2 linked regions of the Homo sapiens genome follow. The protein of the gene in region 1 interacts with the protein of each later gene in a biochemical or structural test. Each region holds a gene or a part of one and is shown on either strand. Other genes may lie near its edges. The genes, in order: PRM1 and SRPK1.

The links.
Region 2: of the proteins of PRM1 (region 1) and SRPK1, one has a biochemical effect on the other in vitro, tested with the Homo sapiens proteins (one study listed by BioGRID).

What each region holds. Positions count from the first base shown.
Region 1 is NC_000016.10:11,280,340-11,285,502, forward strand, and holds PRM1 (sperm protamine P1), read right to left. Parts: upstream 992-5,163; 5' UTR 900-991; coding exon 788-899; intron 697-787; coding exon 653-696; 3' UTR 502-652; downstream 1-501. UniProt on the Homo sapiens protein: Protamines substitute for histones in the chromatin of sperm during the haploid phase of spermatogenesis. They compact sperm DNA into a highly condensed, stable and inactive complex.
Region 2 is NC_000006.12:35,882,810-35,890,098, reverse strand, and holds part of SRPK1 (SRSF protein kinase 1), read left to right. Parts: intron 1-1,175; coding exon 1,176-1,284; intron 1,285-1,987; coding exon 1,988-2,075; intron 2,076-3,287; coding exon 3,288-3,375; intron 3,376-7,289. UniProt on the Homo sapiens protein: Serine/arginine-rich protein-specific kinase which specifically phosphorylates its substrates at serine residues located in regions rich in arginine/serine dipeptides, known as RS domains and is involved in the phosphorylation of SR splicing factors and the regulation of splicing.

The sequences.
Region 1 (5,163 bases):
AGGCAGGTTTGGGTTGTGACTTGTTGGTACTACTAAGAGTTTGGAACAATGGCCAGGTGCAGTGGCTCATGCCTGTAATCCCAGCACTTTGGGAGGCCGAGGCAGGTGAATCATGAGGTCAGGAGATCGAGACCATCCTGGCTAACACAGTGAAACCCCGTCTCTACTAAAAATACAAAAAATTAGCCAGGTGTGGTGGCGGGCACCTGTAGTCCCAGCTACTCGGGAGGCTGAGGCAGGAGAATGGAGTGAACCTGGGAGGCGGAGCTTGCAGTGAGCCAAGATCGCGCCACTGCACTCCATCCTGGGCGACGGAGCGAGACTCTGTCTCAAAAAAAAAAAAAAGTTTGGAACAAAACCCAGCGTGACAACTGTCTTTCATGTCCCCCCCACCGACATCTTTCTCCCGTTGCATGCCCAGGCCCTCTCCCCCTCTGCTCATCCCCGAGCCCTCCTCCCCACTGAGCCTCCCCTCTCAAGAACAAGGAGAGAAGAGTGGGATGACTTTTCAACATTTATTGACAGGCGGCATTGTTCCTTAGCAGGCTCCTGATTTTTATTGGATGGTGGCATTTTCAAGATGTGGCAAGAGGATCTTGAAGTCTGGTAACATTCTCAGGCAGGAGTTTGGTGGATGTGCTATTTTGTGCAATTAGTGTCTTCTACATCGCGGTCTGTACCTGGGGCGGCAGCACCCTGGTGAGACCAAGAAAAGTGGTGAGAGGAAGGCTGGGCCCTGAGAGCTCCCAGCCTCAGCCCCAGCCCACCCTCAGCTGGGCCCACTTACTCATGGCTCTCCTCCGTGTCTGGCAGCTCCGCCTCCTTCGTCTGCGACTTCTTTGTCTCTGGCGGTAATATCTGCTCCGGCTCTGGCTGCGACAGCATCTGTACCTGGCCATGGTGCAGGATGGGCTTGGCCTGAATGCTCAGAGCAGGGCACCACCTTGGCTGAGCCAGCCAACCTGTGAGCAGGTGGAACTCTGTGGGCTGTGAGTCAGGGGCCAGCTCTGCGGCCTGTTATAGATGCCAGGGGGCCGTTGGTCATTGTGAGGGCAAAGGGGCTGGGACCTCACAAACCATGGCCAGGTGGCCTGCATCATGTCCATATATGGGCATTTGAGAGGCGGGCAGGCCCCCGAGTGTAGGGGCTGCCTATGTCACAGCTGGGGCGATACAAGATGACTCCTCCGTGGGAGCAATCATCTAGTTATTCAATTAACAAAATATTACTGTTAATATTTTGGCCTGTTCCATGCCGGATTTTGGCCTAGGCCCTGGTATATAGTGATAAACAAGACAGACATGCCCTTGTTAAGAAGTATTATTATTATTATTTTATTTTTTTAATTACTTATGTATTTTGTTTATTTTTTTGAGACAGAGTCTCATTCTGTCACCCAGGCTGGAGTGCAGTAGCACAATCTTGGCTCACTGCAACCTCTGCCTCCTGGGTTCAAGCAAACCTCTGGCCGCAGCCTCCCGAGTAGTTGGGACTACAGACATGCACCACCACACTCAACTAATTTTTGTATTTTTAGTAGAGATGGGGTTTCGCCATGTTGGCCAGGCTTGGTCTCGAACTCCTGACCTCAAGTGATCTGCCCGTCTCAGCCTCCCAAAGTGCTGGAATTACAGGCATGAGCCACCGTGCCTGGCCATTATTATTATTTGTAGAGACGGGCTTTCCCTATGTTGCCCAGGCTGGTCTCAAACTCCTGACCTTGAGCAAATCTCCTGCCTCTGCCTCCCAAAGCACTGGGATTACAGATATGAGCCACCACACCCTGCCCCTAATAGACTTTATAATCTAACTACAGAAAGCATGAATGAAACAGCCCTGAAGAATAATTGTAATAGTGACAAATGCTGATAATGGAAACCTCGGGTTTCTGAGGATATGTGCTGGGAGAACTTGACCTCAGGTGAGGCTCTAGGGAGAGCCCCAAAGGGGTGCTGGCGAAGTGAACCCTAAATGGATGCTATAGTAAGAGGAGGGAGGAGCACCTGGGAAGAAAGAGCTGCTCCTGCAACTGTTCTGAGGCGGTGCAGGATGTGCAGTTCTGTTTCTATGCAGGGCCAGGCAGCAGGGGATCCGTGGAGACAGAAAGTGATCGGGGTGACCAGGGCGGGTGGAGCAGGGAGCAGCTGTGCCATGGGTGGGGGGCTTCCTTGTGGGCTGATGCTTTGGAACTTGATAGAGGCGGTGGTTACACAACATTGTAACTGTACTAAATGCCACTGAATTACACACTTTATTTATTTATTTAATTTTGAATGAACGAATGACAGGGTGTCGCTCTGTCGCTCAGGCTGGAGTGCAGCGGCGCAATCTTGGCTCACTGCAAACTCCGCCTCCTGCTTCAAGCGATTCTCCTGCCTCAGCCTCCCAAGTAGCTGGGATTACAGACGCCCGCCACCACACCTGGCCAATTTTTGTATTTTTAGTAGAGATGGGGTTTCACCTTGTTGGTCAGGCTGGTCTCGAACTCCTGACCTCAAGTGATCTGCCCGCCTCAGCCTCCCAAAGTGCTGGGATTACAGGCATGAGCCACCACACCTGGCCTTGAATTACACACTTTAAAATGATGTATTTTATGTTACCTGACTTTCAGCTCAATTGCAAACACGAAAAGCTGTGAGGCCAAAAGGTGCTAACAGGTGTGAGGGATTGGAGCAGAGCATGGTGCAGGGCACTGGTCATGGTGTGGTCTTTTCCACAGCCCCATGGATTTTAAGGGTAAAGAGGGGAGCAGTTAGAATTGGTTTGGCTACTTAAACAGAAAACCGAAATGAGTGAGTTGGGTGGAAGTTTTATGTTTTTCTTAAGGAGTCAGAGGTGATTTCGGGGGTCATTAGATTGTCCCTGTTTGGGGGATACACATGCTGGAGGATTTAGGGGTGATGACATATGTTTGCCAACTACTCTCAAGGATTTACCCATAGAGAAAGAGGGAGAAGAAGGGAGAGAGAGGAGACAGAGATGGGGGCGGGGAGCTGAACAGATGTGACAGAACGTTCACAACTGGCCATGCCAGGCGCGGTGGCTCACACCTGTAATCCAGCTCTTTGGAAAGATCGGCTGAGCCCAGGAGTTCGAGACCAGCCTCGGCAACATAGAGCCCATCTCTACAAAAATAAAAAAAAAATAAAAAAGATTTTTTTGAAAAAACAATTGGCCAATCTGTGTAAAGGGGAGGTGTTTGTCAGGGGTTCTTGCAAGTTTTCTGAAATTTTGAAATTATTTCAAAATAGATTATTAAATTTTTTTAAAAAGAACAAAAGAAAACCCAGGGAGGTCAGCCAGGGCTGGTGTGAGGCTCCATCCTTTTCAAGGGTCCAGGCTTTTGTCTTTTAGCTCTGCCTTCAGCAAGTGCTTTCCATCCACAAAGTTGCCTCATAGTCCAAGATCAGGGCTGCCAGGGATGGTTGTGCAGTTTGTGTCCTGCTCCAAGCTCCCTGCCAAAGGGATTGAGTAGGGACTGAAATCCAGCCTGTGGTCTACTTGCCACTCCAGGCCCTGTACTCACAGGGAATGTTTCAGCCCATCGGAGCTGTCTTTTTCCTAATTTGCCTGCTCACAGCAGAAGTCTCTTCCAAATTTGAACAAAGGCACACTAAGGGCTAAACTTGGCCCTGCTGGAGTCCCACCCATATCCACCGTGCAAGCAGGAAGGAGAAAGAGGAGGGGTGGCAAAGGGAGTTCTTGTCTCTTTTTTAGAGACAAGGTCTAGCTCTTTTGCCCAGGCCGGAGTGCAGTGGCGCAATCATAGCTCACAGCAGCCTCAATGGAATCCTCATGGTATAAAGAGCTTTCCCAGATGCCCTGTCCAGCAACTTCCCCTTCTGATCACTGGCCTCCCTGCAAAAGCACACTGCCCCCTGGGGTAAAGCAGGGCTCCTAGAAAGGAGAAGGGGCTGATGGATACCAGGTAGACAGTTAGTACTCTCTTCCCCGAAGGGGATGGAGCCCACCCCTGACCCCAGCAAGATGGGGAAACCATGAATTTGAAGCTAAAGTCTATTGTCACTAAGAGGGATACAGTAGCACATAGTAGGTTAGCAGTAACTTTTCATTAATTGATTCAGATCTAGATTGAGGTAAAATTGTTACCCCCAATCCTCTAACACTTACTTTTTTTTGTTTGGTTGGTTTTTTTGTTTGCTTGTTTGTTTTTTAGATGGAGTTTTGCTATTGTTGCCCAGGCTGGAGTGCAATGACACCATCTTGGCTCACTGCAACCTCTGCCTCCCAGGTTCAAGCGATTCTCCTGCCTCAGCCTCCTGAGTAGCTGGGATTATAGGCATATGTCACCACGCGTGGCTAATTTTTGTATTTTTAGTAGAGACGGGGTTTCACCATTTTGGCCAGGCTGGTCTCAAACTCTTGACCTCAAGTGATCCACCCACCTCAGCCTACCAAAGTGCTAGGATTACAGGCGTGAGCCACCACACCCAGTCCAGGGTGACTATCAATCTTCGACATCTCATCAGGTTCCTCTGAGACCATGTGAGTTACCCTGTCTCTACTAAAAAGACAAAAATTAGCTGGGATGGTGGCTCTTGCCTGTAATCCCATCTACTCAGGAGGCTGAGGCAGGAGAATCACTTGCTGGGGTTACAGGCATGAGCCACTTTGCCCAGCCACAGAGATTAGTTCTGAGTTCTGGGAAGAGGATGCCCTGGAGCTAGGCGGTGGGGACATTTGGCCTCGTCTGGGATCTTGAAGCCTTCCGTGGTCATCTGAAATTTTGGGTTTGTCACAGCAGCTGGCTGTTACTCTAATACAGTACTTGCCACTCACTGATACTGTGTTTATAATTTGTCTCCCCAAGTGGGATGGAAGTTCAGTGAGACTTTCTTTTGTTCAGTGTGACAATCCTAATACTGAGAATAACCTGAACTAAAAGGAACTGAAATATTTGTTGAATGAATAAGTGAATGGCAAATGGATGCTTTGTATGATAGGATTCTTTTCTTGGCTTTTTCCAAATCTAAAATTGTGTTATCATGATTTTTAAAACGACGTTTAGCTTCTCCCTGCCAGCCACCCCACTTCTGTTGGGTATTGTCCTTGGCACTGGCGATTAGAAATCACCAAGACTCCTGCCAGTTAAACACACGCTGAGTCTCATAAGGGGACATCCAATACTGTTCCCTGAGGTC
Region 2 (7,289 bases), on another chromosome or scaffold:
CTCGCTCTGTCGCCCAGGCTGGAGTGCAGTTGGCGCGATCTCGGCTCACTGCAAGCTCTGCCTCCCGGGTTCATGCCATTCTCCTGCCTCAGCCTCCCGAGTAGCTGGGACTACAGGCGCCCGCCACCATACCCGGCTAATTTTTTGTATTTTTTTTTTTTTTTAGTAGACACAGGGTTTCACCGTGTTAGCCAGGATGGTCTCGATCTCCTGACCTTGTGATCCGTCTGCCTCAGCCTCCCAAAGTGCTGGGATTACAGGGGTGAGCCACCGCGCCTTGCCGTTTTTTGTTTTTTGTTTGTTTGTTTGTTTTTTGAGACAGAGTCTGGCTCTGTCATCCAGGCTGGAGTGCAGTGGCACAATCTCAGCTCACTGCAACCTCCACCTCCTGGGTTCAAGCGATTCTCCTGCCTCAGCCTCCCGAGTAGCTGGGACTACAGGCATGCACCATGACACTGGCCAATTTTTGTATTTTTAGTAGAGACTGGGTTTTACCATGTTGGCCAGTCTGGTTCTCAAACTCCTGACCTCAGGTGATCCACCCACCTCGGCCTCCCAAAGTGCTGGGATTACACGCGTGAGCCACCATGCCCAGCCTTAATTTTTGTATTTTTAATAGAGACAGGTTTCACTATGTTGGCCAGGCTGGTCTCGAACTCCTGACCTCAAATGATCCGCCCTCCTTGGCCTCCCAAAGTGCTGGGATTACAGGCATGAGCCACCGTGCCTGGGCTGTTTTGTTTTGTTTTTATTTAGAGAAAATCCCGTTTGCTTACTTGCTTTTTTTTTTTTGCTAAATAAACAGAATTATTCTGTCTCCTAAAAAACACCTGAGACTGTAATTGTAAATAGATATATATGTTTAGATAAACCTATTGAATTATTGAGAGACAAGAATATCATGATATACAACCTTTTTATTGTTTTTGGATGAGACTGTTGTAGGCTCAATCTAAATCATTAATCTTACTCACTTTTTTTAATAACATGAATTCAGTAATACTATGTGGCTGATTTGACTATTAAGATTTTCTTCTGTTGAATTGATTGTATAAAAGAAACTTTTTATTGATAAAAGGTATATAGATGTTGAAAAATGTGATGTTAAAAATGCCTTTTCTTACCATTGTTTCTCATCCTGGTTTTTCTGATTGTATTTCCCCTGTTTCTTCCAGGAGGTTATCATCTTGTGAAAATTGGAGATCTATTCAATGGGAGATACCATGTGATCCGAAAGTTAGGCTGGGGACACTTTTCAACAGTATGGTTATCATGGGATATTCAGTAAGTTTTAGTGGTTCTGTAAAAGAATTAGTTAGATGATGTCTAAATGTGTTTGTCTGAGTTTCCACTGCTGATCCAGGCTTCAATCTATCTCTAGCCTGATTCATTTATCAGAATTTTGTTGTTGGCAATAGTCTCTGTATTCTTGGAGAAACCACTTTTCTTTCGTGAAGAATCAGTATTATATATCTCCCTTTCTACTATAGAGACAGGAGTGATTAAATTAATGCTGGTAAAGCTTTTGTCGTTTGATTTTTTTGTGATTTTTATCATTTTCTTTTCACCGAAGTATTTCTTCTGGCTGCCTATGGGAAAATATTACAGCTTTTAACCTTTTAGTTTTTGCCTATATACAGATATATACACAGAACACTTGGAATTTGGTAATATCTTTCCCCTTATTTATCCTCATTTTGCAGTTTTGCTTGTAACTCAGGGAGATATTCAAAAGAAGGATTTTAACTCAGAGAAAATGTTCAACAACTGAGATTATCTGAGAACAGATTTTTTATTCTTCCTATAAATGAAATCTGGCCAGTTAGTGTCATTAACAAGTATAAATGTTCCCATAGAAGTAGCTTGTTTGGGCTACAGGGAAACGTGAAATCAATATTTGTCCTTTTTAACCATCTTATAGCTAAATCTTAGCTTCCTAAAGTAAGGGTAGGCTATGTAGTCTTAATTGCCTGTGTTTGTTTCTTAGGGGGAAGAAATTTGTGGCAATGAAAGTAGTTAAAAGTGCTGAACATTACACTGAAACAGCACTAGATGAAATCCGGTTGCTGAAGTCAGTGAGTATTAGATTATATGTATGAATGTGAAGAATTATAAATAAATCAAGTTTCATTGAATAAAAACACACCAAGTGGAGGCTCTTTAGCATGGATAATTTTCTCTATAAAGTTCTAGTAACCTTAAAGAGGTAAAGGAAGACAACAATATTTACACATACCATGCATGTAGTAGGGAACTGGTGGCAAATGCTATGATGAGAATTCTTCTTACACGCATGAACCAAAAAAAAACCTTTCAAATGAATAAAAATATTCACTGAGCATGTTTTACAGGCCAGGTAGCTACTGTCATAATGTTTTTTTTTCCTACTATGGTTAAAAGGAAAGTTGTGTAAATAAATGTATAGCATCTTTTTTGTTGTTTTTCAAATATGTTATAGAATACATAATATAAAAATACTGTATTTACTGATTCCATTTATACCTGGAAACTGAGATAAATTCTATCAAAAATGTATTTTTAGTTCTGTTTTAAATTAGGAATATGCCAGTGTGGTAGAAGGAACTTAAATTCAGAATTAGAAAACCTGGGTTTAGGTCGCCTTTACCCCGGTATGTCCTCCATGTTACCATTTTTTTCTTTCTGAGTCTCAGATTTTTTATTCATAAAGTGAGAATGTTGCACCAGGAGATTTCTATGGCAGTAGTTTTCTTTTTTATTTTCAACTCCTGGCCTCAAGTGATCTGCCTTAGCCTCCAGAGTAGCTGGGGTTACAGGCACAAGCCACTGCATCTGGCTTAAGACAGTACTTTTCAGAATGTCCGTTTGTGACAAGATAAGGAGCCTTGTACCTACCCAAAAGTAAATCAACATACTGTTTTCTTCATTGAGAAAGTTTTTCCATGAAAAAAAAAATGTCCGCTGAAAAAAACAGTGTGGTTAGTGCTGTAGTTGATTTGCATCCTGCAAAATCTTCTTAGTTCCTCATAGCCTGGTAATCATCAGTTAATTTGGAGGCCACACTTTGATTGATATCAGGGAGCAAAATAGTTTAATTAGAAAAATAGTTCCTGTTGGTTGTATTTCCTCTTATGAATTGACTATTTAAGATTTTTCTCCATTAAAGCTATTGAAATTTTAGTATATTTTAAAAATAGATTTATGTGAGCTCTTTCTTGTAGTTAATTTGCTGTAAGTATTCTTCCCCTACCATCTGGTTTATTTCCATGCTTTACCTTGTGCTAAACACTGTCTCTTCCCCACTACAGGTTCGCAATTCAGACCCTAATGATCCAAATAGAGAAATGGTTGTTCAACTACTAGATGACTTTAAAATATCAGGAGTTAATGGAACACGTATCCTTTTAAAAACCTATTTGAGAATAAATCATCCCAATCCCAAAGAAAGGAACTAGATTTGTTGTGTAGATGGCCTTGGTGTCTTTTCTAAGGCAAACTATAATAAAATTACCTCTTTTATTGTACACTTCTGAACACACATCTGAATTTTGTCTAATTTTGTGTGGTGTGATTTTTCAGAATATTGCTTTAAGCTTCTTGTCCTCTTTTCAGGCAAATTAAAGCGAAATCAAAGGAAACTTTTAGAAAATGCGTTGTATCACTAAGTAAAGAGTCTATGATTTTTGTCAGTTAGCACAGAAACTTTAAGGGAAGTAATTTCTTATGAAAAATACTGAGTAGGCCGGGCACGGTGGCTCAAGCCTGTAATCCCAGCACTTTGGGAGGCCGAGGCAGGTGGATCACCTGAGGTCAGGAGTTCAAGACCCACCTGGCGAACATGGTGAAACTCTGTTTCTACCAAAATACAAAAATTAGCTGGGCATGGTGGCAGGCTCCTGTAATCCCAGCTACTGGAGAGGCTGAGGCTGGAGAATCACTTGAACTGGGGAGGCAGAGGTTGCAGTGAGCCGAGATTGAGCCCACTGCACTCCAGCGTGGGGGACAGAGCCAGACTCTGTCTAAAAAAAAAAAAAAAAGATACTGTCTAAAAGAAAGAGAAAAAGAGAGAAAGAAAAAGAAAGGAAGAAAGAAACTGGATGAACAATTTAAGGTATGATTGTATTTATTATACTAAGCCTCAACTTTGAAGAGGCTGTGAATGTAGTTTATGTTTAGAGTCTAAAAGGGTGTAATTGTTCACATTCTATTATAATGAAAAACTGACTTGTTTTATGTTTTTATCTGGATGTTTTAGAACTGTAGAATTGAAAGGAACCATAGCTGATTTTCTTCACAGGTATCAAAGTGACGTGCGGTGAGCTAATGGAAAGGTTATTGCAACAGCTGTGCTTATAAAGGTCAATCAGATTTTTCAGTAAAAGATGAAGTCGAATCTTACTTAGATTGGATAAATCTAAAATCACCTGTTTATAAGCTGTTTTTAAAATGTATAAAGACATTTCATACATTATTTTACTTTTCATGCATGTTTAGCTTCCTTTAATGCACATTCCTAATTGCTGTTGATCTTTTTGTATTTAAAGGAGACAGGACTACATATGACTAGTTTCATGTAGACTATGGGAAGAGATTTGAACAGAGAAGCAGGAAGGAAGGGATGGGAAAGGAGAGAGAACAGCTGATAATGTGGAAAGACTATTGTTCTAAAGTCAATTCTGAGTCATTTCTTAGAAAAATACAAATCACAGATTACCCAGATGTCTAAGGAAAACTGCTGCAACCATCTTAAAACAGTATCTTGTGCTTATTGTGGTCACTTTGTAGATGGCTCTCTCTCTCTCTCTCTCTCTCTCTCTCTCTGTGTGTGTGTGTGTGTGTGTGTGTGTGTGTGTGTGTGTTCAAAGAATTAAGAATTCTAAACCAAGTAATTTTTTAAAAACCTACACAGGGTGTCGTGATGGCCATATCTGTTTTTTCTATTATTTAATCTTGTAATGTTTGTCATTGTGCCAGATTTCTTTACTAATTTGCAAAAGTTCCAAGTAAAACTATAGAAATACTCTCAAATCTCCCCAGTAATGCTGAGTACCTTTATTTGACCCTAACTAAGCAAAGAAGGCTTTTTAACTATTGAAATATCTTAGTAGGTTTGAATTTCAAGTTCCAAGATATTTTTCTTTTTCTTTTTTGGAGTTCAATGGCATAATCTCGGCTCACTGTAACCTCTGCCTCCTGGGTTCAAGTGATTCTCCTGCCTCAGCCTCCCGAGTAGCTGGGATTACAGGTGGATGCCACCACACCCAGCTAATTTTGTATTTTTAGTAGAGATGGGGTTTCACCATGTTGGCCAGGCTGGTCTCAAACCCCTGACCTCAGGTGATCTGCCCGCCTCGGCCTCCCAAAGTGCTGGGATTACAGGTGTGAGCCACCGTGCCCGGCCCCCAAGATATTTTTCAAACATTGCTAGGTGGTTTCTCTGTAGCTTCTGTCCATTGATTCCCTATTTTATTCTTTTCTCCATTTGTTCTTAGCCATTTTTTCCTGTCTTTCTTCATCCTTATCTCCCAGCTGTCTTTGCTCCTGCATTATTTACTACTGTTAGAGATTGAAAGGATATAACTCAAAACACTATGTTAAGGGTTAGTAATGGCTCATGTCACTCTCCTGCCTCTACCCGTTTTCCCAACATAACATACCCACACAGAGCAGTACATCCACATTCGTGTGTATGTTTGTTCAGGCGTTTTTTTCTCTGGACCACTATCGTTTCTCATATTAAAATATAAAGGGCCCTAAACTAGAAAGTTAGTTCTTACAGAATTCCATATAAACTGGCTCACTCTACTTGCCTGGAGGGTGAGGGGAAAAGAATGATTAAGAAGGAGGACAGTTGGTTTCTCTATATAATGTTGACATTAGCCAGTCATTATTGTCTGCTTATATGACCTCCTATGTCTTTAGGATACTTTTTTTTTCATGCTGTATTCTGTCTGTTTTGCTAGCTCCTCTTATTCATAATGTGCCCTAAATGTGCTTACTCAATAACATAAGCCTTTTATTTTCAGCCTTTTGTTATTTTCTTTACACTGTCTCCCCATTAGATTTTTTTAAAAATATAACCTTGTGGGCCGGGTGCAGTGGCTCACACCTGTAATCTCAGCACTTTGGGAGGCCGAGGTGGGCGGATCACGAGGTCAGGAGACCGAGACCATCTTGGCTAACACGGTGAAACCTCATCTCTACTAAAAATACAAAAAAAAGCTGGGCGTGGTGGCAGGCGCCTGTAGTCCCAGCTACTCAGAAGGCTGAGGCAGGAGAATGGCGTGAACCTGGGAGGAGGAGATTGCAGTGAGCCAAGATAGCGCCAACTGCACTCCAGCCTGGGCGACAGAGCAAGACTCCGCCTCAAAAAAAAAAAAAATAACCTTGTGATTTCAATTACTAGTGCTTCTGATTGCTACTCATTAGCTTTCTTTCACTCAAATTATTTGGCTCTTCCTTTTTGCCACTTGATTATGATGTTCTGTCAAGTTTTTTTTTAAGCTACTATATGTTTGGTCATTTTAATATCACTGCTTACAAATTAAAACATTTTCAAATTGTAATACTTCTCTCAACAAATAAAAATTAAGCAGATGGAAGCTAGAAACATAAGAGAATAGCTTTACAATCCTATTTTATGTTTAGTCTTTTTAAGTAATCTGCATTTTAAATAATCTTGTTTTGATAATTTTTTTTATTTAATTGCTTTTTTATTTTTATTTATTTTGAGACAGAGTTTCGTTCTTGTTGGCCAGGCTGGAGTGCAATGGCGCAATCTCGGCTCACTGCAACCTCCGCCTCCCAGGTTCAAGCGATTCTCCTTCCTCACCCTCCCGAGTAGCTGAGATTACAGATGCACACCACCACGCCCAGCTAGTTTTTGTATTTTTAGCAGAGACGGGGTTTTGCCATGTTGGCGATCCACCTGCCACAGCCTCCCAAAGTGCTGGGATTGAAGGCATGAGCCACCATGCCCAGCCTATTTAATTGCTTGTTTAAAAAAATTTCCTGGCCAGGTGCAGTGGCTCACGCCTATAATCCCAGCACTTTGGGAGGCCAAAGCGGGCGGATCACGAGGTCAGGAGTTCAAGACCAGACTGGCCAACATGGCGAAACCCCATCTCTACTAAAAATACAAAAATTAGCGAGGCGTGGTGGCACGTGCCTGTAATCCCAGCTACTTGGGAGGCTGAGGTAGGAGAATGGTTTGAACCTGGGAGGCGGAGGTTGCAGTGACCTGAGATCATGCCACTGCACTCCAGCCTGGGTGACAGAGCAAGACTCCATCTCGGGTGGGGAAATTTTTT